Homo sapiens: one gene and its partners. The protein of the gene in region 6 interacts with the protein of the main gene of each other region in a pairwise test. Each region holds a gene or a part of one and is shown on either strand. Other genes may lie near its edges. The genes, in order: CCDC69, MIDN, ZNF775, RNF19A, ZNF746, MAP3K20 and VPS33B.

The links.
Region 1: the proteins of MAP3K20 (region 6) and CCDC69 interact in a two-hybrid assay, tested with the Homo sapiens proteins (one large-scale study listed by BioGRID and IntAct).
Region 2: the proteins of MAP3K20 (region 6) and MIDN interact in a two-hybrid assay, tested with the Homo sapiens proteins (one large-scale study listed by BioGRID and IntAct).
Region 3: the proteins of MAP3K20 (region 6) and ZNF775 interact in a two-hybrid assay, tested with the Homo sapiens proteins (one large-scale study listed by BioGRID and IntAct).
Region 4: the proteins of MAP3K20 (region 6) and RNF19A interact in a two-hybrid assay, tested with the Homo sapiens proteins (one large-scale study listed by BioGRID and IntAct).
Region 5: the proteins of MAP3K20 (region 6) and ZNF746 interact in a two-hybrid assay, tested with the Homo sapiens proteins (one large-scale study listed by BioGRID and IntAct).
Region 7: the proteins of MAP3K20 (region 6) and VPS33B interact in a two-hybrid assay, tested with the Homo sapiens proteins (one large-scale study listed by BioGRID and IntAct).

What each region holds. Positions count from the first base shown.
Region 1 is NC_000005.10:151,199,895-151,203,773, reverse strand, and holds part of CCDC69 (coiled-coil domain-containing protein 69), read left to right. Parts: intron 1-2,085; coding exon 2,086-2,192; intron 2,193-3,879. UniProt on the Homo sapiens protein: May act as a scaffold to regulate the recruitment and assembly of spindle midzone components. Required for the localization of AURKB and PLK1 to the spindle midzone.
Region 2 is NC_000019.10:1,247,349-1,251,685, reverse strand, and holds the start of MIDN (midnolin), read right to left. Parts: upstream 3,104-4,337; 5' UTR 3,026-3,103; intron 1,799-3,025; exon of another isoform or gene 1,797-1,798; 5' UTR 1,390-1,796; coding exon 1,157-1,389; intron 125-1,156; coding exon 37-124; intron 1-36. UniProt on the Homo sapiens protein: Facilitates the ubiquitin-independent proteasomal degradation of stimulus-induced transcription factors such as FOSB, EGR1, NR4A1, and IRF4 to the proteasome for degradation. Promotes also the degradation of other substrates such as CBX4.
Region 3 is NC_000007.14:150,382,283-150,386,161, reverse strand, and holds part of ZNF775 (zinc finger protein 775), read right to left. Parts: exon of another isoform or gene 3,339-3,879; intron 2,362-3,338; exon of another isoform or gene 2,171-2,361; intron 1-2,170. UniProt on the Homo sapiens protein: May be involved in transcriptional regulation.
Region 4 is NC_000008.11:100,289,174-100,293,052, forward strand, and holds part of RNF19A (E3 ubiquitin-protein ligase RNF19A), read right to left. Parts: intron 1-3,879. UniProt on the Homo sapiens protein: E3 ubiquitin-protein ligase which accepts ubiquitin from E2 ubiquitin-conjugating enzymes UBE2L3 and UBE2L6 in the form of a thioester and then directly transfers the ubiquitin to targeted substrates, such as SNCAIP or CASR.
Region 5 is NC_000007.14:149,491,254-149,495,132, forward strand, and holds part of ZNF746 (zinc finger protein 746), read right to left. Parts: intron 3,251-3,879; coding exon 2,951-3,250; intron 2,863-2,950; coding exon 2,736-2,862; intron 1,720-2,735; coding exon 1,606-1,719; intron 1-1,605.
Region 6 is NC_000002.12:173,260,733-173,264,611, reverse strand, and holds part of MAP3K20 (mitogen-activated protein kinase kinase kinase 20), read right to left. Parts: intron 3,550-3,879; coding exon 3,475-3,549; intron 868-3,474; coding exon 717-867; intron 1-716. UniProt on the Homo sapiens protein: Stress-activated component of a protein kinase signal transduction cascade that promotes programmed cell death in response to various stress, such as ribosomal stress, osmotic shock and ionizing radiation.
Region 7 is NC_000015.10:91,008,983-91,012,861, forward strand, and holds part of VPS33B (vacuolar protein sorting-associated protein 33B), read right to left. Parts: exon of another isoform or gene 3,452-3,879; intron 2,188-3,451; exon of another isoform or gene 1,572-2,187; intron 865-1,571; coding exon 819-864; exon of another isoform or gene 809-818; coding exon of another isoform or gene 803-808; intron 1-802. UniProt on the Homo sapiens protein: May play a role in vesicle-mediated protein trafficking to lysosomal compartments and in membrane docking/fusion reactions of late endosomes/lysosomes.

The DNA of each region.
Region 1 (3,879 bases), on a different chromosome or scaffold from region 6:
ATATATACTATATAGATTTTATTAGTATATATTATATATACTATATAGATTTTATTAGTATATATAATATATATACTATATATATTTTATTATATATACTATTTTTTATATATACTAAATATGCAGAAGCTGCATATTTAGTACATATATATAACTAAATATATATATTTACTAATATATAAATATATATATTTACTATATATTAAATATGTATATTTACTAAATATATATATATTTATTTTTTATTTTTATTTTTATTTTTTTGAGACGGAGTTTCACTCTTGTTGCCAGGCTGGAGTGTAGTGGCAGGATCTTGACTCACTGCAACCTCCGCCTCCCAGGTTCAAGCAATTCTCCTGCTTCAGCCTCCCGAGTAGCTGGGATTACAGGCGCCTGCCACCATGCCCACCTAAATTTTTTTGTATTTTTGGTAGAGACGGGGCTTCACCATGGCCAGGCTGGTCTCGAACTCCTGACCTTAAGTGATCTGCTCACCTCGGCCTCCCAAAGTGCTGGGATTACAGGTGTGAGCCATCGCGCCTGGCCTACATTTCCTTTTGTGCACAAGCAAGCAGGATAAGGTGGTAGTTAGGAGTATTTGCTGTGGAAACAGATTGTGTAGGTTCATATCCCTGCTCCCTTAATTTTGAACTGGGTGACTTTGAACAAGTTGCATGACTCCTCTGAGCCTCAGCTTCCTCGTCTGTAGCATGGGGGTAATAATATTACTCACGACTATAGGGTAGCTGTGAGGAGCAGGTGAGTCATCCCTCTGAGGCACTTGGAACAGTGCTGGACATGTTGCAGGCATGGTAAGCTCTCAGTCCTCCTATCCTGCTTTTACTATTTTTATTGCCATTGTTTCCTGATTTAATCATCTCAGCCTCACTCATGTGGTAGGTGCCATAATTATCCTGATCCCATGTATTAGGTAACTGAGGCACAGAGAGGATGGCCACTGCCTTAGGTCATACCTAGTATCTGATAGACTCAGTGTGGCATTGGCAGGTCCTGTTTTGGAGTTTCCCGAAGCAGGGGCTAGACTTCCTGTTTGTGTTTCCTTCCTGCTCTCAAGTAGCACCCTCTACTACCAGCTGAGGAGACGCTAAAGGTGAGGGGCCACAAACTCAGATGCTCATGGGCCCCAGCAGGTAAAGCAAATGACATGTGGCCCTTTGTATACATTTTTAATAACAGCAGGAGGTGAAGACTATAGCCAACTGCAGAGCCCTATCCTGGCCGGCCAAAGAGGAGGCAGCTGCTTCTGGCTCCAGCCCCTGGTTGACATGAAGGCATACATTGCCAGTTCTTCTTTGGATTCTTCAAGAAAAATTGGAAATCAGAATTATTAAGTAAAAGCTTCCCAGTTATTAAGTATCAACAACTAATTTTTAAATTATTATTATTATTTTAGAGACAGGATCTCGCTCTGTTGCGCAGACTGGAGTGCAGTGATGCAGTCATAGCTTACTGCAGCCTTGAACTCCTGTGCTCAAACCATCCTCCTGCTTTGGTCTCCCTAGTAGCTGGGACTGCAGGTGCATGCCATCATGCCCAGCTTTTTTTTTTTTTTTTTTTTTTTTAGAGATAGGGTCTCACTATGTTTCCTAGTCTGGTCTCCAACTCCTGGTCTCAAGTGCTCCTCCCACCTCAGCCTCCCAAAGTGCTGGGACTACAGGTGTGAGCCACCATGTCTGGCCAGCGACTAATTTTTTAAAAAATGGGGTAGAACAGGGAGACCAGAGGACAAAATGAGACCATTGGCTTATTCCTTGAAAGAGGATCTCCAAGTCCAAAGAGACTCGAGGGGCTGTCTCTGGAGACTGGTCCCACTCGAAATCATTCTTGAGGCAGAGACCAGAAGACAAAATGAGACCATTGGCTTATTCCTTGAAAGAGGATCTCCAAGTCCAAAGAGACTCGAGGGGCTGTCTCTGGAGACTGGTCCCACCCGAAATCATTCTTGAGGCAGAGACCAGGGTTCTCATCCCTTAGCCCCATTTCCCACACTCTCTCTGCCAGCTCTGACTGTACTTCCACTCTGTGAGTTTTTTTATTTTTATTTTTTTGCTTTTTCATCTCTAGCTATAACTGTCCAGCTCTGTGCATCAGAGGAGGCTGAGCGGCACCAGAAGGATATAACCAGAATTCTCCAGCAACATGAGGAGGAAAAGAAGAAATGGGCACAACAGGTAAGTCCAGGTGCCCCCACCCCCTGTCTTTCTCCTGCTCAGCTAACTTTGGTGAATCCCAGAGTGAGTGCCTACCTTAGGTTTTTGTTGCTGTTGTAAGAGTCCCTTACTCATTTTACCAGGAAGGGAGTCCTTTATCTGTTGAACACATATTTTTATCAGGGCACTGTGTGCTGGGCACATTGGTTAAAACAAGCAGAGCTGGCAGCTGCTTTCACGAAGCTGAGAGTCTATTTGGGAAGAGTAAAAGCTGTTGATGCCACTAGATTAATTGCCTTTCTGGGCCCACCTCATGGTTGGGTGGGACCACGGAACTCGTTCTGGCTGATGCGTTATAGAAAGAAGAACCAGTGTCACTTCTAGGGCAAGCATTTAGTTGCCAGTTCAAGACCCTCAAGGTCTTTCTGTCTAGCTAAGTGACGGGACTGTTGTAATGGCCGCTCTATCAGCCTGATCTCTGGGTGATTATCCCTGGATAATCCTGGATAATCCCTGGCAGCAGAGCTCCCTGCCACACAAAATGGGTAGGTAGTGAGGGCAAAATAAACATTTTGTCTTAAGCCACTGAGACTTTGTCATTGTTTGTTATGGCAGCATAATTTAGCTTATATGACTGAGATGGGACATCAGATGCTAAACACAATTACACAGAAATACTTACTGCAAATATAAGTGCTATGAAAAGTTTACAGTGCCGTGAAAGGACATAATAGAACCCTTAACCAAGGCTGTGGGATCAGAGAAGGCTTCTCTAAAGGGATGACACGGAGGCTTTAAAATTACCCAGAAATGAAAATTGAGGGACATTCTACAGAATTTCCAGCCTATATTAGTCAAATGTCAAGGCCATGAAACATGAGGAAAGACTGGGGAACAATTCTAGATTGAAGGACACTAAAGTGATGGGATGACTGAATGTAACCTGCAGCCCAGGATTTCCTTTTCCTCATTCTAACTTGGTCACTCACCCTTCACCTCTCTTTGCCTCCATTTCTTCCTTTACCAGAGGGAATGGGTAGAGCAGCAGGAAAGATTTGGTGGTGTACACAAGTTTTCTCTAAATTTTCTTTAGTTTAAATTATAAATATGAAATATGTTCAGGGTAAATATTCAAAATTCTGAAATTTAAAGTCACTGCTTTAAGATAGATCTGGGCCAGGCATGCCTATAATCCTAGCACTTTGGGAGGCCGAGGCAGGCAGATCACCTGACGTCAGGAGTTCGAGAACAGCCTGGGCAACATGGCGAGACCACCGTCTCTACAAAAATACAAAAATTAGCCCAGCCTGGTGGCACATGCCTGTAATCCCAGCTACTTGGGAAGCTGAGGCAGGAGAATCACTTGAACCTGGGAGGCAGAGGTTGCAGTGAGCTGAGATCTCACCACTGCACTCTTGCCTGGGTGGCAGAGCAAGAATCCATCTCAAAAAAAAAAAAAGTCTCCGTAGTTATAAACTAATCACTCTATTAAATCACATGGTTATTTATTACTGAAAGATTTTCTGCTAGATTTTATTCACCCAGTCGACTTGCTGGGGGAGATTACTATGTGCGGGGAGGGTGCGGCCTCAGCACTGCCAGGGGTACAGGGAGAAATCGGGTCCAGACCCTGCCCTCAGGTGTTCGCTGGGTGGAAGGCTGTGGCAAGTGCCCCCACACACATTAAAATGGTTTTAGCTTAGACGCA
Region 2 (4,337 bases), on a different chromosome or scaffold from region 6:
GGGCCTCTGGGGGCACGCAGCCCCATGGCCATTTACCATGAGGCCCGCTTCCACGGTGGGTACCAAGGTCAGCTTGCTGCCATCACCCACGCCGAACTCCTGCAGCTTCCCCGAACTGAGCCGGCTGGGGGGAGGAAGGAAGAGCATGAGACTCCGCGGAGACGACACAGGGACGCGGAAGCAGAGGCCGCGGGGGAGGGCTGTGCTTGTGTGGGGAGAGACGGATAAGTTCCCACCCCCACCCCTTCCCGGCTTCCAGATCCAGGGCCCTAAGCGCGTGCAGAGAGGTCTCCGTCTGGTGCTGGGAGCCCCATCCTGGCGATTCGGACCCCTTCCCTCCAGTGGAACCCCCGCCCTGGACTCTGGCACCCCCTCTGCACCCCAACCAGGCACTTTCTCCTCCTCTGGGCCCCAGTGTGCTCTATGCCACCTTCCCCCACGACCCCAGGGCAGCCCCTGCCCCCAATTCCCTAATTCTAGTCCTGGCTCCTCTTTGTAGGAACCACGGGTTTCGGCCCGAGGAGAGGCCCTGGGGGTTGCGCCGGGCCGGGCTCCCCCTCCTCCTCCCTCCCCGGCGCAGGCGGCCGCCGCCGCGCAGACAAAGGAGACCCTCCCCCTCCGCCCCTCCCCCGATGGGCCCCTCCACTGGGATGGACACTGCGTGTCCCCGGAGGCCCGCGGGGGGAGGGCTCCGGGCCTGCAGGCGATTTAAATACCAGGGGGGAGGGGAGGCTGCGGGGAGCGCTCGGAGGCGAGAACAAAGGGGGGGAGAGAGACGCAAGTGGGGGGAGACAGCCAGACGCAGAGGAGGCCGCCGAGCAGATGCGGAAGCCGGCGCGGACGCAGGCGGGAGGGGGCGGTGGCGGCCCCCACACCCGCAGCCGGGACCCCCGCAACGCCCTGGGATTCCTGCCCGCCCCCAAGGGGGGCCGCCGAAGCCCGGCCCGGGACGCCCTCGCAGCCGCCTTTGTGCGGCGACCCCGGGCGGGGGAGGGGGCCGAGGCAGGCGAGGCCGAGCAGAGGGCGCCCGAGAGCGCGCGGCGCGCCCCCGCCCCCTGTCTGGCCGCCCCCTGCCTTCCCCGCGCGGCGCGCTCTTTGTTCCCGCCCGGGGGCCGGGGCCCGAGGGGGCGGCCGGCCGGGGGCGCGCGGTACCTACGTGTCTTTGTGGAGAAGAGCCAGGCGCTCCTTGGGCACTTTGAGGCGCTGGGACAACCGCTTGCGCAGCCCCTCCACCGTCTCGTCGGGCGGCACGGCCAGGTCGTAGCGGGTGCCCGTGGTGCTGTGGATGGCGAGGCTCATGGGCGCCGCCTCGGCCGCCGGGCCCAGCTCGCAGGCGCCGCCGGGGGCCCCGCGCCGGCAGCTCCGGGCGCCGCCGGGCTGCGGCTCCATCCCCGGCGCGCGCTGGGGGGCTGGGGGCGGCGGGCGCCGCCAATCCTCGCCGCGCCTCCGGGACAGGGGCGAGAGGCTCCCCGGATGCCGGGTCCTCCGGGCACTCGGGGGCGCGGAGCAGCGCGCGTCCTCCTCGAGAAAGTCCCGGCCGCGGAATGCGAGACCGAAATCCAAAATCCGAGTGGCGCTCCGAGGTCGCTCCGGCTCCTGGGGGCGCCTTCCGGGGGTGGGGACGGCACTTGCTTCTCCTTCAAAGGGCGGCGGGCGCGACCGGGACGCGGCGCGGTTAAGGGTCCTGGGGAGGGGGCGCCGCTCGGCTGGTGGCGCTGGGTGCCGTCTGCCGCCCGGGTCGCGCTTCCTCGCGCGTCCCCTCCCTTAGCAACAGCCGTCGCCGCCGCTCGGAGGATCTGGGGGTGAAAGTAACAAGAAAAAAAAGTTATAATGTATCAACGTTCCAGGGGGCGGGGCCGCCGCCCCCTCCCATTCACTACTTACTCCGCCGGCCGGGCGCCGGCCAATCGCCGCGCGCCGAGCGCCCAGTCGGCCGCGAGCCCGGGCCTATGAGAGCCGCCGCGGCACCGCCCCACGTGGCAGCCGGGCCCGCCCCCTCGCCCCGCCCCCAGCGCCCAGGCGACCAAGGGGAGCGCAGCGGGGGCGGGGCTGGCGCCTCTCCGCGCCCGCCCCCGCCCCGCCCGCGCCCGCAGCCATTCATAAGCGCCCGGAGCCCGCAACAAAGGGCGGGCGCGCCCCGGGGGGCGCGGGACCCAGGTCTGGAGACGGGTCTGGTACCCCTCGCGATCCCAAGGGAGCGGCCGGGAGCGGGAGGGGGCGCGGGCCATTGTTCCCGGCGCCGGGAGGGGCAGGAAGTCGTGGGGCCACCCCGCCGCCTTCGTCCGGGAAAAGCCGCGAGCGGAAGCGGGAGCGCGAAGTCCGCGCCTCGTGGCCGGGGTCCCGGGGCGGGCGGGCGACGGTGAGGCTAGGGCCGCGGCCCCGGGGAGGGCGTGGTGCGTGGGGGCGGAGTTGTGGCCGGGGCGGGGCGCCCGCACCTCGGTGACGTGGCCGGGTGGCTGCCGCCGGGGGCCCCGCGCGCCCACCCGCCGGCCGCGGGCAGAACCCGTTTCCCCGAGGCGCGCCCGCTCGAGCCGTGACGTGACGCGGCGTCCCCGGCTGCGCCCGCGCGCGCTCGGGGATGCGGTGAGTCAGCAGCTCGGGCGCGCCCTCTGCCGGGCCCGCCTGGGAGCGCCGCCCGGAGTCCCGGGGAGGGGGCGCCGCGCTGCCCCTGGCAGGGGAGGAAGACGACTGGGCTGCGCGCGGGGGAGGAACCCCGATCGGGAACGAAAGACTGTAGTCGGGAGACTGGGACCGTGTGGCTGGGCAACGGAGGGCGGAACGGCAACCAGTTCAAGGTCACCCGCGGTGAAGGGGGAGTGCCCCGGGGGGCGGGGCGGGGGCTGAGGTCCGGCCAGGGCGGCGCTGGCTGCGCGGAGCCCCTCCCACCCCGCACCCCGGGGGGCTTCCCAGGACCGGAGGCTCCCCGATCCCTCCTGTCCCAAGAACAAAGAAAAGTGCGGGCATCCTGAGCCATCTAGAGTGGGCACCCTTCCTCGGCCCGCAGGTCCCCCCCCTCCACACTCACCGGGCGCGGCCGGTTCTGCGCTCCAAGTGCTGCGAGTACCTTCGTCCGGGGCCGAATGCGCGCTGGCCGGGCCGGTCTGGGCCAAGCGCGCGGCCCTCAGCCTTTATCCGCGCCGCCTTCCCTCGGGGTGGAGTTAGGGCGGGCAGGGGGGCGGGGGGCCGGGCGGGCGGTGACGCAGACTGGCCCCCGCCCCTGCCTGCCGGCCCTGGCCCTGGGGCGCCTTGACGGCTGGGCCACCCGGGACCCAGGCTTGGCGCAGTTCATGGGGGGACTCCCCTTGAATGCCCCGAGCCAAGGGTCTCGGCCCGCCTCGCCGCGGGCTGAGATGCACCCCGAATCGTCAGCGGGACAGGGTTTTGGGGTGTACAGCGCGACTCGCTGCCCCGCCCCCTTCCTGTCGCCCCAGGCCCGGTGCTTCCGCCTGGGGGCGCCCGCGTGGGGGGGACGGGAAGAGGGGCCTGAGTCAGCGGCTGTCGTCCAGGAAAACAGGCTGGAGTCACCTGCCGTAGAGTGGGGGTGCCCTGGCCAGCCCTGGCCTCCTGCATCTGTCAATGGTGACCTCAGAGGGCATTTATGGAGCGATTAGCCAGTGCCAGGCCTGCCTTGTGCCCAGCCAGTCACCAGCCGGCTATGCTGTGACCCCGGGAGGTAACTGGCCTCTCCAAGCCTCAGTTTCTCCAGGGTGGGTGGGAGTGTGGTGAGGGGATGCGGCAGGATCACTTTGGGGCCATCACCCCCCATTAATGCAGGACATGCACTGGTTCCCAGCCTTTGGGGTGGGCATTACCCCATTTTACAGATGAAGAAACTGAGGCCACAGCCAATGAGACACGAATGTGGTGTGCATCTCACCCTTCCCCGTCGGCTTTTTGAGGATGGTCCTGGTTGAGGTGGGCCCCGTCCTGCCCCTCTATTTAGAGAAGGGGACCCCATTCCTACGGGAGCACCTCCTGTCCACTCATCTGGCCCCTCCCTTTATCTGGCCTGACCACCTCCACCCCCACCCTGGCCATGGGCGCCCCTCCCAGGGCTGCGCTCCTCCCCAGGTCTCCTTCCGGCTGCCACCCATGCTCCCGGCAGCCGTGGCCCCCACCTTGACAGGCACACCCAGCCCCGAAGGGTCAGGGCTAGGCCAGAGAGGGAGAGGCTGGGATAACCCTTGGAAGGGGGTCACAGGGGCTGCGGTTTGAGGAATGACTAGGAGTTTGTCACATAAAAAAGATGATGCGGTCGGGCGCGGTGGCTCACGCCTGTAATCCCAGCACTTTGGGAGGCCGAGGCGGGCGGATCACAAGGTCAAGAGATTGAGACC
Region 3 (3,879 bases), on a different chromosome or scaffold from region 6:
GAGTTTGAGACAAGCCTGGCCGACGTGGGGAAACCCCGTCTCTACTAAAAATACAAAACTTAGCTGGGTGTAGTGGCACATGTCTGTAATCCCAGCTACTCGGGAAGCTGAGACAGGAAAATTGTTTGAACTCAGGAGGCAGAGGTTGCAGTGAGCCGAGATTGTGACAGAGTGAGACTCTGTCTCAAAAAAAAGCTAAATAAGCCTTCTGCCAACATTACAACCCAGGACTGTCTTTCCCAAGGTCCTGGGGGCCATTTCTTTGAAATTTAAGTATCAAGGAAGACATCACCCCTGCCTCCCAGTCTCCATGGGAGGGTAGGAGCCTAATTTCAGCAGGTGCCTGGCTCCAAATCACAAAACTATCTCCTGTCATAAAAATATAAGAACTTTATTTTTCCTGTGGGTAAAGGCAATTAGCTAACACAGATGGTCACTCCAATTATGAGGTGAATTTAGGACGACCTGCCTGCGTGTGACAAATGGTAATGTCCAGTCCTCTTGCTGGAGGGCTGGTTGCTGTTTATCCTGAGAACATGTCTGTAACGGGCTGCACCTGCCGGCTACATGCAGGCTGAGAGCTTCCGTCTTTGCAGTTACTCAGGGATTGCAGGCTCAGAGCTCCCGTCTTTGCAGTCATTCGGGGTATTGCAGGCTCAGAGCTCCCGTCTTTGCAGTCACTCGGGGTATTGCAGGCTCAGAGCTCCCGTCTTTGCAGTCGCTTGGGGTATTGCAGGCTCAGAGCTCCCGTCTTTGCAGTTGCTCGGGGGATTGTCCATGGTGCGCACCACATTCTGGTTTCATGCACATTCAATCTTTTAAAAGCTGTTTTTCTCTTCTACTTTTGCAAAGAGCTTTTCTGGGTTGGCAAGAGATTTTGTTTTCAATTCTATTTCCCCAACAGGGGCCTGTACGCATGCCTACCATGGTTTCTTACAGAACCTGCTTGTGGTGCAGAGAAAAGGCGAGCAGTGGGGAAGGGGGCGGGAGGAGCCCCTGGTGGGGCTCTGATGGGTGCTGGGGGCTCCTCCCTCCCTCGCCACCCTCCTCCCTTGGGGCCACTCTGTGAGCTTCTGCATGCCACATCTTGGGAAACCTCTCACCAACTGGACTTAACATCCACCTGAAGAGGCGCAGAGGGGCTAGTGGACAGAGAAGCCACCTTGGTAAGGGGAACTCAGACCGAGGAGGGCAGAGCCCAGGCCACAAATTCAGGAGGACAGAAGGATGGGCCTGGGTCTCCACAGAGCGAGACCCCCAAGGCAAATCAAAGACAGTCCTACTTCACCCACCCTGCCTCCCAAGAGGTATTAGGACCTAACAGCCACTCCAGGTAGTAGCAGGCCTTCCACTGTCCGGGACCTCCCAGAGCAGCTCCTCCCTCAAGCCTCGGTGCCTCTGTCTCGGGCCATACCAGGGCTCGAGGGGAAGCAGCCTGTGGCTTACGTAAGAACAGAAATGGAGACAGAAGGAAGAGGACCCAAGAGGAAGAAGTGAGAAATTCAAAGGGGGAAACACAGAGGACAGGAATGAGGGGAGGCCAAGTCTTTGGGGACCCGCCTCTACCTGTGTGCTCAGGTGGGCTATGTCTGGGAAATGGCACAGCAGGTGTCCTACAGACAAAATCCAGGAAAGCCCTCCATGTGTCATGTTCCAGGCTGGCCAGACACACACGTCCCCACCCTAAGCTTCTCTCCTATTCTGCCTTTCACTCTGCTCTGTGCATGGCGGGCCCCTCCTAACCTACCATCCTGACATGTCCTCAGCCACCTGGAGACACCCAGGAGCCAGGTGAGCAGGCTGCCCAGCAAAGCGCCCCGGCTGGAAGACAGGCATCAAGGGCCAGATGCGCCATCTCCCACCAGTGCCCACACCAAGTCTTGGAAGGCCGCTTTGTCTATCGCACAAGGGCCCCCGGGCCCCTACCGGACCACCTTTCCTCTCTGCTGCCCCTCGGGCTCTGAGGGGAGCAGGACACACAGGGGCCCCCTTCCCACGCCTGGCCCTGGCCCGGCCCTCCGCGCACCGGGTCAGGCTGCAGTTCAGTTAAGAGCCTCACAGTGGGCAGGCCTCAGCCTGGGCCCAGCTGCCATGACAACTGAAGACCAACCACACAAAGAGGGGATTGAGCTAGCAGCAGGTGGAGAGGCCCGGGGCAGGGGGAGGCAACAAAGGAGCTTTGGTTGTGGCAGAGACTTGGGGGTGGGGCGGCCAGACAGCAGCTGGGGGAGGAGAAAGGCCACAGGCCAGAAAGAGGCAAGGTCCTCCCCATCGCCGCCCCTGGAACCTCCCACCAGCCCAGCACAGCTCTCACAGCCTCAGCGCCCCAGGTCGGGCAGTCAGAAGCAGACCATGCCACAGGTATCATCTGCTGCTAGTGGAGCGGGAGCAGGATCCGCCACTAGGCGCTAAGGCTTTTGGGGGTGGGGGCAGCTCCCCAAACCCCAGCCAAAGGCCCAGTATCAGGCCCTTCTCAGCCCTGAGGTCCCAGCAGGTCCTCACTTGCTGGGCACAGCTCAGCTGGTCTTCCATAGGAGACCCCCACAGAAACTGGCCTCTCCAGTCCCAGCCCATGCCCAGCCAATGCCTCCCTGCCATGCTGCCCCTTTCTATAGCCTCATCCTTCTCAACTCCACCGGGTCCCCAGCGCCTCCCTGCCCTCCTGCAGCCCATACCTGACTGCTATGTCCTCACCCAGTCCTCTCTCCCTGTGAGACCCCTCACTCAGGTTAGCCCCAGGGAGCGGGGGCTTGCTCCCACACCTGCGCGTCCCTCATATGCAGAAGGTGTGTAATGTGTATTGAATGAATGAACGGATGAGTGAATGAAACAATGGAGGACCCAAGAGGTGGCTCCTCAGGCTCCAGTCTTCTGTCACTATTAAGAAATCCCTCAGGACCAGGCAATGGTATTCTCTGCCTCTGATTTCAGTTAATAGCAGATGTTTTTAATTTAAATATATGATCATAGGGACATAAGAAACTGATGTAAATGCTAAACCACACACAAACACACCCAGATACAATCATATCTAAATACAGCTAAGTAAACAAAAGTTCAAAGACACAAAACTACGTGAGAACACCTGCAAAACTGTCTATGCAAATACAGAGAATGTGAGATATTTTTTAAAACTCACAGACACACCTACAGATCCACAGACACACAAACGTGCCACTGTGAACCAGGGCAGCACGAATCACTGCACAGCACACTTAGGAACACAGAACTGCAAAGCCACCCATGACACAAGTATCCTTGTACACCCATGGCCATCCCATCAGGGTCACTTGCTCCGAGGAAAAGAACTCAGAGAGGTAGAAACAGAAGCAACATACCCTCATCGAGCCAGGAGGCCGGGGCCATAAGTCACCGTTGGATGACCTGCGCTGGGGTGGGATAAGTCAGCAGGAGCTGCAGCTGGCTGGAGAGACGTTACAGCAAGACAGAAAGCCCTAGAGACAATGAGCCTGTGTCCGGCAAGCCTGGTGCAGCCTAAGATCCTCAGGGCCTGGCCTGTGGGCTCTGGCCCAAGGGGATGCAGCGGGCCCTCTCCCCTTCAGCCATCTTTGGGTGACCCTCAGCCGCCACCTGGCTGGCTCCTCAGCCCTAGTCTCCCCCTAGAAGCCCACTGCCTGAGGCTGGCAGGGATGTCCTTCTCAAGGCCACCCTTCCTGGTCCCTCCCCTCAGGACCCCATGTCTTAATCAAGAACCCCAAGTCCCAGCCCACCCACCACTGAGCCGCTGCTAGTCCCTGGCCAGTCATTGCAGCGCTTTGAGCTCAGGTTCTTGAAGGCGCAGGTGAACGGAAATACCTGCTCCCTGAGTTTGGGAGGAGCACCACAGGGCGGCAAGCCTGAGCCGGATGCATCGGGCAG
Region 4 (3,879 bases), on a different chromosome or scaffold from region 6:
ACTGGTTATCCACCTGAGAAAAGAAACTTGATGGATGGATGGCTCACCCATGTGTGAAAATCAATTACAGATGGTTTACAGATCTAAATATAAAGCTTCTAGGAGACAAAAGAGACTATTTCTATGAAAAAATTCTTAAACAGAACATACAAGAATACCAACCATAAAATAAAAGACTGATAAACTGGACTAGAATAAAATCAACAGACAGTATTAAGGGTATGGGAGGAGACTTTTGCCACATATAACTAATAAAGGCACAGTGCCCAGACTATGTAAAGAATGCTTACAAATCAATAAGAAAACATAGACAATCCAATAGAAAAACGGGCAGGGGACTTAACAGGCATTTCACAAAAGGATATGAAAAGTGCTCAACATCATCAGTCATCAGGAAAAAACACATTAATGCCACATTCAGAGACAACACACCTAATAGGATGGCTAAAATTAAAAGACTGACATTTCCAAGTGTTAGCAAGGATGTGGAAGAATAGGAACTCTCTTACACTACTCGTGGGAGTGTAAAATGGCACAATTACTTTGGAAAACTGTTTAACAATATCAAATTGGAACACAGAGATGCCCTATTACCCAACAATTTCACTCCTAGAAAGGAATGCATAAGAAAAATGAATGTACACATACATTAAAAGACATACTTAACAATGCTCACAATAGCATTAGTAATAATATTCAAAATATTGGAAACAACCCATAATTTTATCAACTGTAGAATGAATACATAATTTGTGGTATATTCACACTCTAAAGCAATGAAGCAATGAAAAGGAATAAAATACTGCTACACACAAGACAGGACTCTCATACAAAAGAGTATGTGGTATAATTCTATTTATAAAAAGTTCCAAACAGAGAGAATTAATGTACAATGTTAGGAGTCAGGATTGTGGCTACATTTTGTGGTGAGGCACAAAGGGAACTTTTTTTGTTTTTTTGAGACACAGTCTGTGTCTGTTGCCCAGGCTGGAGTGCAGTGAAGCAATCTCGGCTCACTGCAGCCTCCATCTTTTGGGTTCAAGCAATTCTCCTGCCTCAGCTGGGATTACAGGCATGCGCCACCATGCTGGCTAATTTTTGTATTTTTAGTAGAGACAAGGTTTCACCATGTTGGTCAGGCTGGCCTCGAACTCCTGACCTCAAGTGATCCGCCCGCCTTGGCCTCCCAAAGTGCTGGGATTATAGACGTCAGCCACAGTGCCCAGCCAAACTTTCTTAATATGTGCAGTATGCATAGTGGTTACAAAGGTATGTTCACTTTGTGATACATACACGACCCAGAAACTCATGATTAATGTGCCTTTTTCTATGTGTTTTTTTCCTCCTATGGCTGACCTCCTAATTAACATGTGTTCTCTGGAAAAACATTTCACTCAAACAAACTTCACCTCATGTCCCTCGGTTTATATTTCCCTTCACAAACACAGGATAGATAAGGAACAGTCAGAGAGCTCAATCTATACAAATACAGTTATGCATCACTTAATGATCAGGATACATTCTGAGAAATGTGTCATTAGGTGATTTTGTCGTGTGATCACAGAGCACACTTACACAAACCTAGATGTTATAGTCTATTACACACCTAGGGTATACTGTATAGATTATTGCTCCTAGGCTACAAACCTGTACAGTATGTTACTGTAGTGAATACTGGAGGCATTTGCAACACAATGATATCTGTGTACCTAAACACAGATGTTTCATTTCTTTGGCTCTCCGATATCCTGCCAGTGCCTCACACTGGGTAAATCCAACCAGAAGCCAACTGCCTCTAAGGCAGTCCTTAGAGGTCAACCTCCTGGGGCACAGAGCAGGGTAGAGAAGGCTGAATGAGAGTAGATCTGGACATGCAAACAAAAAACATCCAGTATTGTATGTATAAAGAAGAGAACTTGGGAGTCAAAAGACCTGGCTCAGCTATTTTTTGTTATCATATCCTAGGTAAGATATATTCCTGAATCAGTGATCAGGACCACAAAATATGGATGATACCACTCACCTCAAATAGATGTTCTAAGAATAATATGAAATTGACATGTGTTAAACCTGCCTAACAAACCCGGCACCGTACTAAATGTTAGCTGAAATGGAATGTAAGATAACCTAGTGCTTTACAAAATGTGTACCTTATAGCAAGTGCTTAGTATTAAATGAATGAATGATGCTTTTCAGTTGCTATTACTCTGTGATCCTTAAGCCATACGGCCTTACTACATCCAGTTTTTTAACTGTGGAAAGACAAGAACCTTTTACCTTCAGAAGTGCTTCAGGATTCGTAAAACATGTTAAGTATCCTGACACTACAACTTCAAGAATTATACATTTATAATATCCCACCAATAAACATCTAACCATAAACACTTCAGCAGCATCTAATAGCCACCTATCTGCCTAAATGATTTACACATCATTAGAAAGGTATTCTGGAAATGAAGAAGGCAGGGCAAAAAGTTTGCATACACAGAAAACACTTACTTCCCAAGAGGAAAACCTACTACATGGTCAAATAACAGTTTTTGCTTCTGTTATTCAGCTAAAATTAGGTTTCTTCTGTCACTTCTCAAACAGCTTAAAATATGGAGAAAATCCAGTAATTTTGTGCTGATGGTCAAAATACTAAATGTAAGAGCAGTGTACCTATGTCTTCTAATTTTAATTTGTTTTTTAGATGTCTGACATCCAGATGTATGGTACTTCTAAAATAAGCATGCAATAAAAACAGCATGTGACAATATTTACTAGCACTGTTGAACAGAAAGAGGACTAAGTCTTTTTTTTTTTTTTTTTTTTTTCAAGTAAAGATGGAATAGGTACAGATAATTCCCAGCAGAGTTTCTACTGATCACTAACTTGGTCACTACAGAAGCTTAAAGCTATTCTATACTCAAGTGAAACTGTCAATAAAGAAGACAAATAAAAAATACTATGTTAAATGCTGTATTCTGTATTACAAAAGAATAACAAGCTATTAAACTTCAGCACATGCTTATGTTGAGAAGATAATAAAGAATAAAAAAAACAAATTTAACTTTAATGGCTATGTATTTGCATGTGAGATTGGGAATCCACGAGGAACATTTGCTTTGATAGCAAAGATATTTTTAGTATTGTCTCACTACAAGTCATTTACATTTCACTTTCTGTGCACTAGGCACATGTTTATATCCTGCTGCAGCACTTTTCCTTACTGATGTGTAAGACATAGTTCTATTTAATAAAGAGGCTTGCTATCATATGGGTGTGTGTGTGTGTGTGTGTGTGTGTGTGTGTGTACGTATAAATTGTATTTGACTATATGGCAATTTTCCAATGTAGAAATTTCAAAAGTTTTTAACGTGCTCAAATTCACATATCTTTCTGACTTTTGACTTCTACACCAGCCTTAGAAAGCCTTGCCCACTCTAAGATTATATTTTTAAAATCCCTTCACATGTTTTCTACTGGTAATTTGATAGTTTATGAATAAGTAGAGATCAAAATTTGTTTTCTAAATGGCTAGCCAGTTACCTCAACACCAGTTACTGAATAATGATCTTTCCTCCATGCCCCACCCCCTACATACATACTGATTTAATTTTTTAATTTCTTATTTTTGAGACATTTATTTATTTATTTATAAATTATTCCATTGCTCTATAAGCTTACCAAGTCTTCTTTTGGAGGATGAAACCTAATTGTTACATATTTACTTTCTGGTACTTTTCAATCTTTCTTGTGCAGCGGTGCCCAAACTTTTTGGTACCAGGACCAATTTCATAGAAGACAATTTTTCCACAGATGGAGGTGGGGGGTGGGAGCAAGGATGGTTTCATCAGGCATTATATTCTCATATGGAGTGTGCCATCTAGATCCCTC
Region 5 (3,879 bases), on a different chromosome or scaffold from region 6:
CCACGGATGCTGCTGAACATCATACGGTGCAGCTAGAGAGTGTTACAGGGTCTTACCAGCAACCAGCGTATTTCCAGCCCCTCTTTACTCTCATTGAATGATGCTGTGGAAGTGAGGGAAGCCTCCACACATGGTGTAAATACAACGAAACCCACCCACCCAGAACCTCCCACCCAGGCTAGGAAGCTGGGGACGCGCACGGGTTGTAACCCTCTTTTCCAGCCCAATAGTATCTGTTCTCAGCCATCTTTCTGTCCTCTAGTGTTCAGCACTGTCCTTGACGCCTAGAAGATTCTTAAAAATGCATCTGTAGAGCTAAACTGTCAATGTCCCGATGACGACTGGCAAAGCGGCCAGCCCGGAACATGCTTCTGCCCTTAGGAAAGTGCAAATCTGACTGAGATGAGATGACGAACATGGGGGATGCATTTAATTTCACACAAGTGGCGCACAGGAGGGCCTCTGCGGACCACCACCTTTCTCAGTGTCAGACGAAAGGGAAAACCAAGGCAGGTGGGACGGTCAAGGGCGGGTCTTCTGGAGGAATCAGGGGTCGAGCCTTGCAGAGATGTGGTCTCCCTAGTCAAATGACCCAGCAGGTCTTCACTTTAGGAATTTGGTTTTTCTCCTGTGTCCACCTGTCCTTCCCTTAACTTTCAAAGGTGCTGACTGGCTCCAGGGAAATCTGAGACGCTGATATCTGGTAACAAGATTCACCTTAAATAAATGTGTGCTTCTAATAATACCAAACCATAAGGCTGACCAATGTAGACCAAAGTAGCTCTACAACTGCTACTGGTTTAAATTAAGGTTGGTTCTTGGAGGCAAGGCTGACTCTTTGCAAAGCTTTGGATTAATTTTGTTGTCAATATACAGCTGACCTTGAACAACATGGGTTTGAACTATGCAGGCCCACTTATAAATGGATTTTCTTCTGCTTCTGTCACCCCTGAGACAGCTAGACCAACCACTCCTCTTTCTCCTCAGCCTACTCAATCTGAAGAAGACAATGAGGAGGATGACCTTTATGATGCTCCACTTCCACTTAATGAGTAATAAATATATTTTCTCTTCCTTATGATTTTCCTAGTAACATTTTCTTTTCCCTAGCTTATTGTAAGTATCACTATGTAACACACAGAACATACAAAATATGTGTTATTGACTGTTCATAGTATCAATAAGGCTTCTGGTTAATAGGAGACTACTAGCAGTTAACTTTTTAGAGAGTCAAAAGTTATACATAGATTTTTGGCTGCGTGGGACTGGGGGCTGGTGCCCCTGGCCCCTGCGTTAAGGGTCAACTATGCTCCTGCCTTCCCTCTCAGCGTTCTCCTCTCCCTCCCCTCAACCTGTGCCCTGCCTTTGTCTCTTCCTAAAAGATTAGGTTTGCCACCTGTTTCCCTGACAGAAAGTGTTCATTTCTGGAGCATTAGCTGACTAAGTTAGAGATTAAAACTCAACTATAAAAAACTCAAGACATAAAACCTGTAAGTTTCATGTTTCTCCTCGACTCTCTCTGGAAAGATCACACCCTTTCTGGCCTTTCCGTCTCTGTTTCCTGCACAATACCTGATGCCTCCCTGGCCTTCTCCCAGCCCTTACCTGGACTGGGGTCCACAGGAACATCTGGAATCTTGGGGCCAGGGCGGCGCCAGTTGCAGGGCTCCTTCCCTTGTTCAATCTGGGAGAGGACCTCGGGCTTGGAGATGGCGTAGTCTGAGGAAAGACAGAAGGTTAGTTTTTGCCACGTTCCAGTCAAAGCTGGGGACAGTCATCCCGGAAAACCAACAATGGTCTAGAAATGAAATCTCTTGATTGTCACAAAGCAGTAGCTCTCAACCACAGGCAATTTTGCTCCCTGGGGGCATCTGGCAAAGTCTGGAGACAATTCTGGTTGTCATGCCCAGGGCTGGGGGAGAGGTGACTGGCATCTGGAGATGCCCTGAGAGGCCAGGGCTGCTGCTCAACATCCTACAATGCAGAGGATGCCGCCGACACACAGAATCACCTGGTCCCAAATGTCCACAGTGCCGGGGTGAAGAAACTGCCACAGAGCGTGCACGTTAAACAGCAGTGCACTTGTGCTGACGAAACAACCTCACGTCTGCACCTGCTCCTGCCCTCTCTAACAGGTCTCACTGCCCTCGGCTCCGGGGTCACACAGAAACCATTAGGAAGAGAAAACCAGCCCAGGAAGAAACAGAGTCCAGGCCCTTCCTGGGCAGGATTAAACAAGGAGAAGAGCAGTAGCCCCAGGGGCTGAGGGAAGCAAAGTTTTGAGGCATGAAGAAAATGTCTGCTGCAAGCAGCACCGTCTGCCCATGTTCTCCACTGACCTCGAGGCATGTTGCCGTAAGGGCCACGCATGTTTGTAGGAGAAGGCTGAAGGAAAGAGTCTTTCTCAAATGTGAGTCAATTACATACTGGATCTGAGAGCAGATGGGGCCTTCCCCGCTCCAAGTCAGCAAGAACAGAAAGGTCCACATCCCGGGCCTGCGTAGGAGAGAAGCCACCGCCGTTCCCAGACTGGCATTCTGGGAAACTCAACACAGGGAGAAGGGAGCTTTTAACTCCATCACCCAGGGCTCATCCTTCACAAAAGGTAACAACTTGCAAGGTCAACAATGTTTCTGGTGATTTATATAACACTGACATGAAAACAACTATGTGGAGGGAGAATTCTGAGGACTTGCAAAATCCCATTTAACAGAGAAATGAGTGTCAGGCCTTACCCAGGGAGACCAGCGTCTCGTAGTTGCCCCTCATCACGTGCTTGTAGAGCTCCTTCTGCCAGTCCTCCAGCTTGCCCCACTCCTGCTCGGAGAAATACACGGCCACATCATCAAAGGTCACGGGCACCTGGAACCACAAGTGTCACACTCGCTCACCCACACGCTCACGGGTTTGGCCGCTTGGGCTCCCACACCCCAAGGCGTCCCAGGGCTACCTTAGGGGACTCCCCCTTGCTGCCCGGGGGCAGCCGCAGGATCCAGAAGTTCCTGTTGCGCAGCAGGTTCTCCACGTTCTCCAGCCGCCTCTGCAGCAGCCCGTACTCCTGCAGCAGGGTCCCCAGCACGGCCCACTTGCCCTCCAGCTGGTTCCCGAACTCCACGGCTGTCTTCTCGCAATCAGCCAGCTTCTTCTCGGCCATCCCGGTTCGACCTTCTAGGGAAAGCAGGCGAGCAGCCTGCGATTCAATCTTCCTCTCCATGGCCTGAATCGTGGCTGCCATCGTCCACGGAGAAATCTTTCAGAAACAAAAGAGAAACTGGCATCACTCATTCCATCCACTGTCTTCATTGAGCCCCTCTCTCCCTAGGCACGGGGGAGTTGGGCTGGGAGTCCATATGTGTGGACAAGTGGGGCTATCCTATACCACATGCCAGATCTCAGGTTGGCCATCACCTGCTTGGGTATGTTAGGTCTATGTCTGGGTGGGTGCCTTTACTCCAGGCCTCTGCAGCACAATGCAGACCCTTATCACGGTGCTTATCACCCTACACAATAATTTCCTACCCACACCTACACTGTGGGCTCCCTGAACATGGTATTGCATCTTTTCATACCACTGTCCTTGACACATGGCAGGTACCCAGTGCAATTTTGTTACGTAAACAGTGACTTAGCATTGCTGGGCATTTTAGTGGAGAAATGGTAAACTGCAGATTTACTAGAGCGCAGCCTGCACCTCCCCTCATGATTACACAGGAACTGTCTACTGATGATGACCCAGCAAAAAAAACAGCTGGTTCACTGAAACGGCACAAACAAGAGTATTGCTCAATTTCTTTTTTCTTTTTTTGTTTTTTAAAGCATCTCATGTCCCCTTTTAACAAACATAAAAATCTAATGGCCAGTTCCTCTTCCCCCAGGACA
Region 6 (3,879 bases):
ATTAGTTTAAGTCAGATGTGCTCATGCTATGTTTAGGAACGGACAGGTTGCTCCATTCTGGCCAAAGCAGAATTGCTGACGGGTAGTCTGTTGGGGGTTTCTAGAAAAGTTTTCCTTACTCCTATATATAAGAACAGGTAGGGACCTAACCCGTTATTTCCTCTGGGCGTTGTGATATCTTTGTGTGATGACTGTAAACAGGAGAGGAGCCGAGGGCAAAGGCAGCCTATTGAGCATGGCAGGGCAGAAAGAAGGGAAGGTTCATTCCACTCTCTGAATATGGTTGAGCCAGCTTATCTTACTGCACCTGGAGCCTGCCCTACCTCTGGGCTTCTTGTTATGGAAGATAATAAATTTTATTACAGTTTAAATCAGTGGCTTAAGGACTTTAGAGTTGTTCTTAATCACTGGGAAGGCTCCTTAAAATGCAGACTGCAGCTCCTATCCCCAGAGTTCTGATTCAGTAAGTCTGGGTTTGGGCCTGAGCATCTGGATTTCTAGCAAGTTCACAGGTGATCCCGATGCTCCTGGTCCTGGGGCCACACTTGGGGAATTATTGGAGTAAGCCAGTTGCAACTGGGTTTTCTGCTACTCGAAGCTCAAAGATAGATCTTAACTGATTGAGGTGGTATCCTCTGAGTCTTTAGATCATCTGGAAATGTCATAATTAAGTTTCTGGAATCTAGCACACATCTAATACGGGAACACTAACTTACTTGAGTCGGACCTGCTTCCAGGGTTGCCATCTGAATTGGTGAATAATGTCTGAATGGCAAGTTGGACTGCTTTCACTTCATCCTGAGGTTTTGTTCTACTCCACTGAATCGAATGGACATGTTTAGTGCTTTTTGGAGTTCTAACATCACTCTGGTAAAACAAACAAACGAAAAAGACAAAAAAAAGACAAATAGAAACATATGACCAAATAGACACACATATATAAAATGGGAAAGAAAGTCATCCAGGTTATTATATCACTTCAGTTTCACCTCTTAGAACACTATCATAATGCACTAGGAAAATATTCTGAACAGTTGGCCCAAATATGCTAATTCAATGAAAAGAAAAATTTTAACCACTTTATTTCTTAGTGGGTTATAGCACTTATTCCTTAATGGATTATAACATAAATTTCTTAGTAAACTATAGTAGCTAAAAAATATGGTTGTCTTTTCCCAGAATTTATTATATTTGACAAATCTCAACTTACCTCTTTGTTTAATAAGAAATAAAAAATTACATCTTCTATTTATAGTACTTGATGACAGCTATTTTGTTGAATAAATGAAAATCTGACCACCATGTTTGCCTAAGACTGAATTTGGATCATCAAGGAAACTGAGTGAAGGTGGTGGGGTGAATTACCTGCACGGAGGGGAAAGGGTCTCAGATGCAAAAGTGAGACAGGATCAAGAAGTAAGAAATGGGGACCAGGAAAAGGAGAGGACACTAGGTCAAGACACATTACTTTCTTGTTCTGAAATCTCCCTCCTCACTAGCTGTCACCAATCAGTGTCAATTAAAGAGTCTCCAGGATTCAATATGGTTAGGGAAATCTGTTTTAAAAAACTCTGAAGTGAAAAACCCAGACAAAAGTGGCATATCATCATGGGGTCTGAAAAAGGAGGAGGAGGGAGAGAGAAGAAGAAAAAGAGAACTGGGTGTGCTGTCTCCAAAACTGTCTAAGGCAGGCAGAGGTAGAATCTGGTTGTTCTAATTGTCCGATTACTAACAAGAGGGCTTTTCCTGGGTAGTGAGGACCAGTTAACAGGCTGTAGAGTAGTCTAGTTTCCAAGTTCCTCAAGACCAACCAGCCTCTTTTGTTTGGGTTTTGCACCTTGCAAGCAATGCTTTGACAAGTAATATAACTTCTCAGATGCCTCATCCCTGACAACCTGTGCACCCCAGCAGGTGAGGATAAATAACTGCTGTAAAACTTTTTGGCTTCCAGCCTGGATAAGTGGACTGGCCAGAGTTTGTATTGCTTTGCTTTTCTTTTTTTTTTTCTTTTTTGAGACAGTTTTGCTCTTGTCTCCTGGGCTGGAGTGCAATGGCGCAATCTCAGCTCACCACAACTTCTGCATCCAGGGTTCAAGCGATTCTCCTGCCTCAGCCTCCTGAGTAGCTGGGATTACAGGCATGCACCACCATGCCCAGCTAATTTTTGTATTATTAGTAGAGATGACGTTTTACCATGTTGGCCAGGCTAGTCTCGAACTCCTGACCTCAGGTGATCCACCCGCCTTGGCCTCCCAAAGTGCTGGGGTTACAGGCTTGAGCCACCGTGCCTGGCCCAGGGTTTGTATTTCTAATATTGAAAAGCCAAATCCTGGCAGCCCAGGAAACCATCAAAATGCCACACTCACAGAGTCCTCTTTGAGGTGGACTTCATCTTACTGCAGCCACTGGGAGCTAACAGGGTAGCCAGGGAAGCGCAGAAAGTGTTTTTTATAGTCAGAAAACATGGAATTGACTTCAACAATTCTGTCAGTGAGGACCTCACACCTCAAGACTTCCTTTCATCTCTCTGAGCCTATTCTTCCTATCTGCAAAATGAGGATAATAATATCTTTCAGTATTTTTTTTTTTTTCTGGAGACAGGGGTCTCACTGTCTCACCCAGGCTGGAGTGCAGTGGTGTGATCTCGGCTCACTGCAGCCTCAACCTCCTGGGCTCAAGCAATCCCCCGACTTCAACCTCCCGAGTAGCTGGGACCATAGTCATGTGCCACCACACCTGGCTACTTTTTGTATTTTTTGTAGAGATAGGGTTTCATAATGCTGCCCAGGCTGGTCTCAAACTCTTGGGCTCAAGTGATCTGCCCACCTCAGCCTCCCAAAGTACTGAGATTACAGGTGTGAGCCACTGCGCCTGGACGATATTTTTCAGTATTGATTTACATGAAGTTAGTGTGATCAAACTGGTGTAAGCACCTCTAATAGTGCCTGGTTCATGGTAGATCCTTAATAAATGTTTCTTGAATGAATGAATTGATGAATGAATGAAATGCATGTCCCTTTGATGGTGGGTGCACACTAATATTTCCAGGTGTGCCAAGACTGTACTATAACTGTTGCCTTCCACCCACTCCCACCGGGTCTACGTACCTTGTAAGGTGTATGTCCTACCAGCCATGAAGATCTTGTTGATTTAAAAAAAATTAGTATTAACTATTAGTATCCCCAATACCAAACATCTTACATGGTATACAGAAGGTGTTCAATCCATAACTAATGAATGACTGAAGTACTACCTCAGTCGCTATCTGGGTAAGTTTATCCTGTTCTCTTTTCTTCCCAACACGTTGTGAGAGAAATTATATTGATCTTCCTATGTTCATGTTGGTTGGTTTACTCCCAATAAATTATATGCTCTGGGTATATCTCCCAATAAATTATATGCTCTGAGATAACAGATAAATTTATATTCATTAACTGATGGTGAGGCCACCAGCCTCTTGCCCCCAGAGCTTACCTCATATGTGACAGTGCACTCCACAGTCTGACTTTTTGCTATTCCTACAATCCACTTCTCCATTACAAATGGTGGCTGAAAAACAAAAGTTAGGATGGTGTAGTACCATAACACAGTCTGCTCTACTATAGTATGTTTCTTTGAGGCCGGTTGTGCCATACACAATTAGCAAATAGGGGCATAATATCAGATTATCATGAAAGCCTTGTTGGTTCTCATGTGATCACTCACAACATGCTAATGTTTGAAGTTTTGCTTTTCATAAGACATCCTTTTGTATATTTGTAAACAGCTAGTCATGGCCTCCCACAATCTTCTTTTCCGATATAACATTTGCTATCACTCAATCCTATCATTAGGTCATTAATTCTTGCTAAAGTTTGAAGCATCAGTTGGAAAACTTCC
Region 7 (3,879 bases), on a different chromosome or scaffold from region 6:
GGACAGGAGGGGCCAGACTGTGCAAGGGATAGGAGGCATGTTGGGGATTCTGGGCTTTATATTGAGCCGCTGCTATTTCCAGCAGGGAGGGCTGTGATCAGGTTTGGGTTGTGTGGAGAATAGCGGAGGAATACACAGAGGGGAGGCCCAGTTTTTCCTGTGGGAGCCTTGGAAGGTGAGAAAAGAGTGGCTGGTCATTTCCAACTCTAAGCCCTGGTGTTCCTTTCATACTACCCCAGGAGTGTTCTTTTCTTATCCTTTCTTTTCCCTCCCTCCCTCTCTCTCTTTCTCTCTTTTCTTTTATTTTCTTTCTCTCTCTCTTTCTTTCTTCCTTCCTTCCTTTCTCTGAGTCTCACTCTTGTTGCCCAGGCTGGAGTGCAATGGCGTGATCTCGGCTCACTGCAACCTCTGCCTCCCGGGTTCAAGCAATTCTTCTGCCTCAGCCTCCCGAGTAGCTGGGATTACAAGCGTGCGCCATCACGCCCAGCTAATTATTGTATTTTTAGTAGAGATGGGGTTTCACCATGTTGCCCAGGCTGGACTCAAACTCCTGACCTCAGGTGATCCACCCCCTCGGCCTCCCAAAGTGCTGGGATTACAGGCATGAGCCACTGCGCCCAGCCCCCAGTAGTGTTCTAATTCGTGGTCCTATTCCCATTCCCATTCTCAGGAACCTCTCCTCCTGCTACACTAACAGGAATAAGACCAGGAAAAGAAGGAGCTGGTGGTGGGGGTGGGGTGGGGGGGTTGGAGAACAACAACAGTTTTTTCTTCTGTATGTTCTCTTTCCCTTTCCACTCACATTCATCTCCTCTCACCTCCATAGATTCCCTCTTCCTCAAGCACCATCTCACACGCATAGAACTGAAAGAGAAAAGGAAATTGATTAGTAACTACCTTCTTCTCTGTTCTCTCCATTTCTCTGGAGTTCCTCTGTGGTCACTGATGAGGACAATAATTGCCGAACCCAGTGAAAGACAAGAGAACCCAGACTCTTAAGATCTAGAAAGAACCATTAGAATCATTCAGCCCAGCACTTCAGTTCTTTCTCATCCATTTAATTTATGTTTGAGTAAATTGCTTCTTATCTCCCTGAGAGAATGGAAGAGGTTTACAAAGGAGAAGGAGTTCAGCTGTCTTCAAAAGGTAAGTTGTACAGACAGAGATGAGAGCAATGGCATGAAGTGCTCTGGAAATTGTGGAGGAGCAGATGGGAGGAAAAGATCTGTACAAGGGAGAGTGAGTTCTGTTTAGGACATGCCCACGGGACCTTGGGAGACACAGACAAGGACTTGGGATTAAGTAGCATATATGCTGTATTTAAAGTGGATGATGTGGCTGGGTGCACTGGCTCACTCCTATAATCCCAGAACTTTGGAAGGCCGAGGCAGGTGAATCGCTTGAGCCCAGAAGTTCTAGACCAGTCTGGGCAACATAGTGACACCCCATCTCTACAAAACAATGCAAAAATTAGCTGGGCATGGTGGTGTGTGCCTGTAGTCCAGTTACTCAGGAGGCTGAGGTGGGAGGATCACTTGAGCCCAGGAGGTCAAGGCTGCACTGAGCTGAGATTGTGCCACTGCACTCCAGCCTGGGCAACAGAGTGAGGCCCTGTCTCAAATAAATAAATAAAGTAGATGGTCTGTCCAAGAGAAAAGAACACGCAGAGGAGAGCTAAGGACAGGACTCTAGGGAACACAAGATGAAAGGGGGCCAGAGTACAGGACCTGGCAGGGAAGACTGAGAAAGAATACTCAGAGAAGCAGGGGCAGGAGAAAACAGCAACAGTCAAGGCAGGAAAGGTGAGAGTTGCAAGGAAGGGTGGGCAACAGTGTCAAATGCCAGGGAAGTTAAGTAGGATTAACATTAAATAGACACCAGTGGATTTGACAACGGAGACCTGAGGGAGACTAGATGAAACGATGAAGGTGGAGATGAGGAAGCAGAAGCAGTGACAATAGAACATTCTTCACAGAAGCCTGGCCCTGAAAGAAGGGGGAGCTCTGAAAGGGAAAAGAGATGAAATGGGAGACATTGTTTAGAAGGCATAGACATGGGTGAAGGCAGAAGAGAAAGTCTACCTGGTAAAGCAAGATAATGGAGAAGGAAAGCAGAAATGGGGCCAAGAACTGGCATGGAACAGCTCATCTTAGGAGGGAAAAGGCCACGATCTCTTCCTCCTTTGAGGTAAGTGGGGAAAGGGTGAATATTTTAAAGTAATGAGAAAGAATGCTGAGGGCACTCACATCTGATAATGAGTTGACATTATTAACAGCTAATGTTGTAAGCCCTTAAAATGGTTTAGGCATTGTTCTTAGTGTTTTACAGGAATCACTTGTCTTCATCTTCATACTAGCTCTGTGAGATGTAGATCAATGCTACGTGCTCCTTATTTTACTGTTACACAGAAGAATCCTATTCCTCCCTCACTCATTTCTGCCAGGAAAACTGAAATCTTCAGGCCTGCTTTTAACTTTTAATGCTAAGTAATGGAATTCCAGAGCCAGGTCTGAAAACTGCCAATCTTCATAATTAACAAAGGAGTCTCAAAGAAGAGAGAGAGATGCCTCCTAATATAAAATTAGGTCAAAGAATTTGATTAGATAAGGTGTTAAGTGGAGAACACTCATAAAAATAACTATTTTGTTTTTCTGTGTAATAGAGAGGCTTGTAGGATTATTTTAACTTGTAGGATTATTCCCTGTTAATACAAATCTGTCCTTGGCCAGGCGCAGTGGCTCATGCCTGTAATCCTAGCACTCTGGGAGGCAGAGGTGGGCAGATTGCCTGAGCTCAGGAATTTGAGACCAGCTTGGGCAATATGGCAAAACCCCACCTCTTTTAAAAATATAAAAAATTAGCCACGCACGGTGGTGCACATCTGTAGTCCCAGCTACTCGGGAAGCTGAGGCAGGAGAATTGCTTGAACCTGGGAGGCGGAGGTTGCAGTGAGTCGAGATTGCGGCACTGCACTCCAGTCTGGGTGACAGAGCAATGCACTGTCTCCAAAAACAAAACAAAACAAAACAAAACAAAACAAGACAAGACAAAACACCAAAGCTGTCCTTGGAAGCATAATTTGAAAAGAAAAAAAAAAAAAAGGTTTGTAAGAGTCCAAGAACTAGAAATTATTGCCATGACTCCTTTAGTAACATTCAAAAGTACCTATAATTCTGAGTGGTTGTCCTACTCAATAATTTCTTGCCCTGGTAATAATACTTCACGTTTGTATTCCTAAGCATATTATCCTAAGATAAATATTTGTAAGATTGTGCTATCAATGTTCAGGTGACATTCAAAGGAAGGTCACTGGCTCTTTCCTCTTATTCCTTTTACAGAAGGAGAAAACAATATAAGCCTAGGGTCCCACTTGATTTCTTATTTCAACAGAGACTCAAAGTCATCTCACTTAAATTAAAAGATAAGTACTATTATCAACTCTATCTTCCAGATGAGAAAACCGAGACACGGAGCAGCTCAGTACCTAACCCAAGACCACACAGGTAATAAGGCCTCAAGGGTGGATTTTATCCAGACAGCCTGGTTTCAGAGGCTTCAGTCCTTAGTTACTGCCTCTATTTTCTCTAGAATTTTCTTAGAAAGATTGAAAAGGAATAAATCCCTGTTCTTCCTAGTCTAGCTTCTACCTTCTGTAAGTATGCATGCACTACTTGCTGTAGCTTTAGAGGCCTATGGTTGGCAAGGTAAAGGCCTGGAACGTCATTCCTCCCAATCACTGGGATTGAGGATGCACGTAGCTGATGTGGAGGTGAGAGGGGAGCTCAATGGAATCAAGAAATGGACAGACTATGATGGACCTCCAAATATGTACTGCAATTATTGAGTTAAAGATGGAAGAGCTCTACTCTGGCTGTGCTA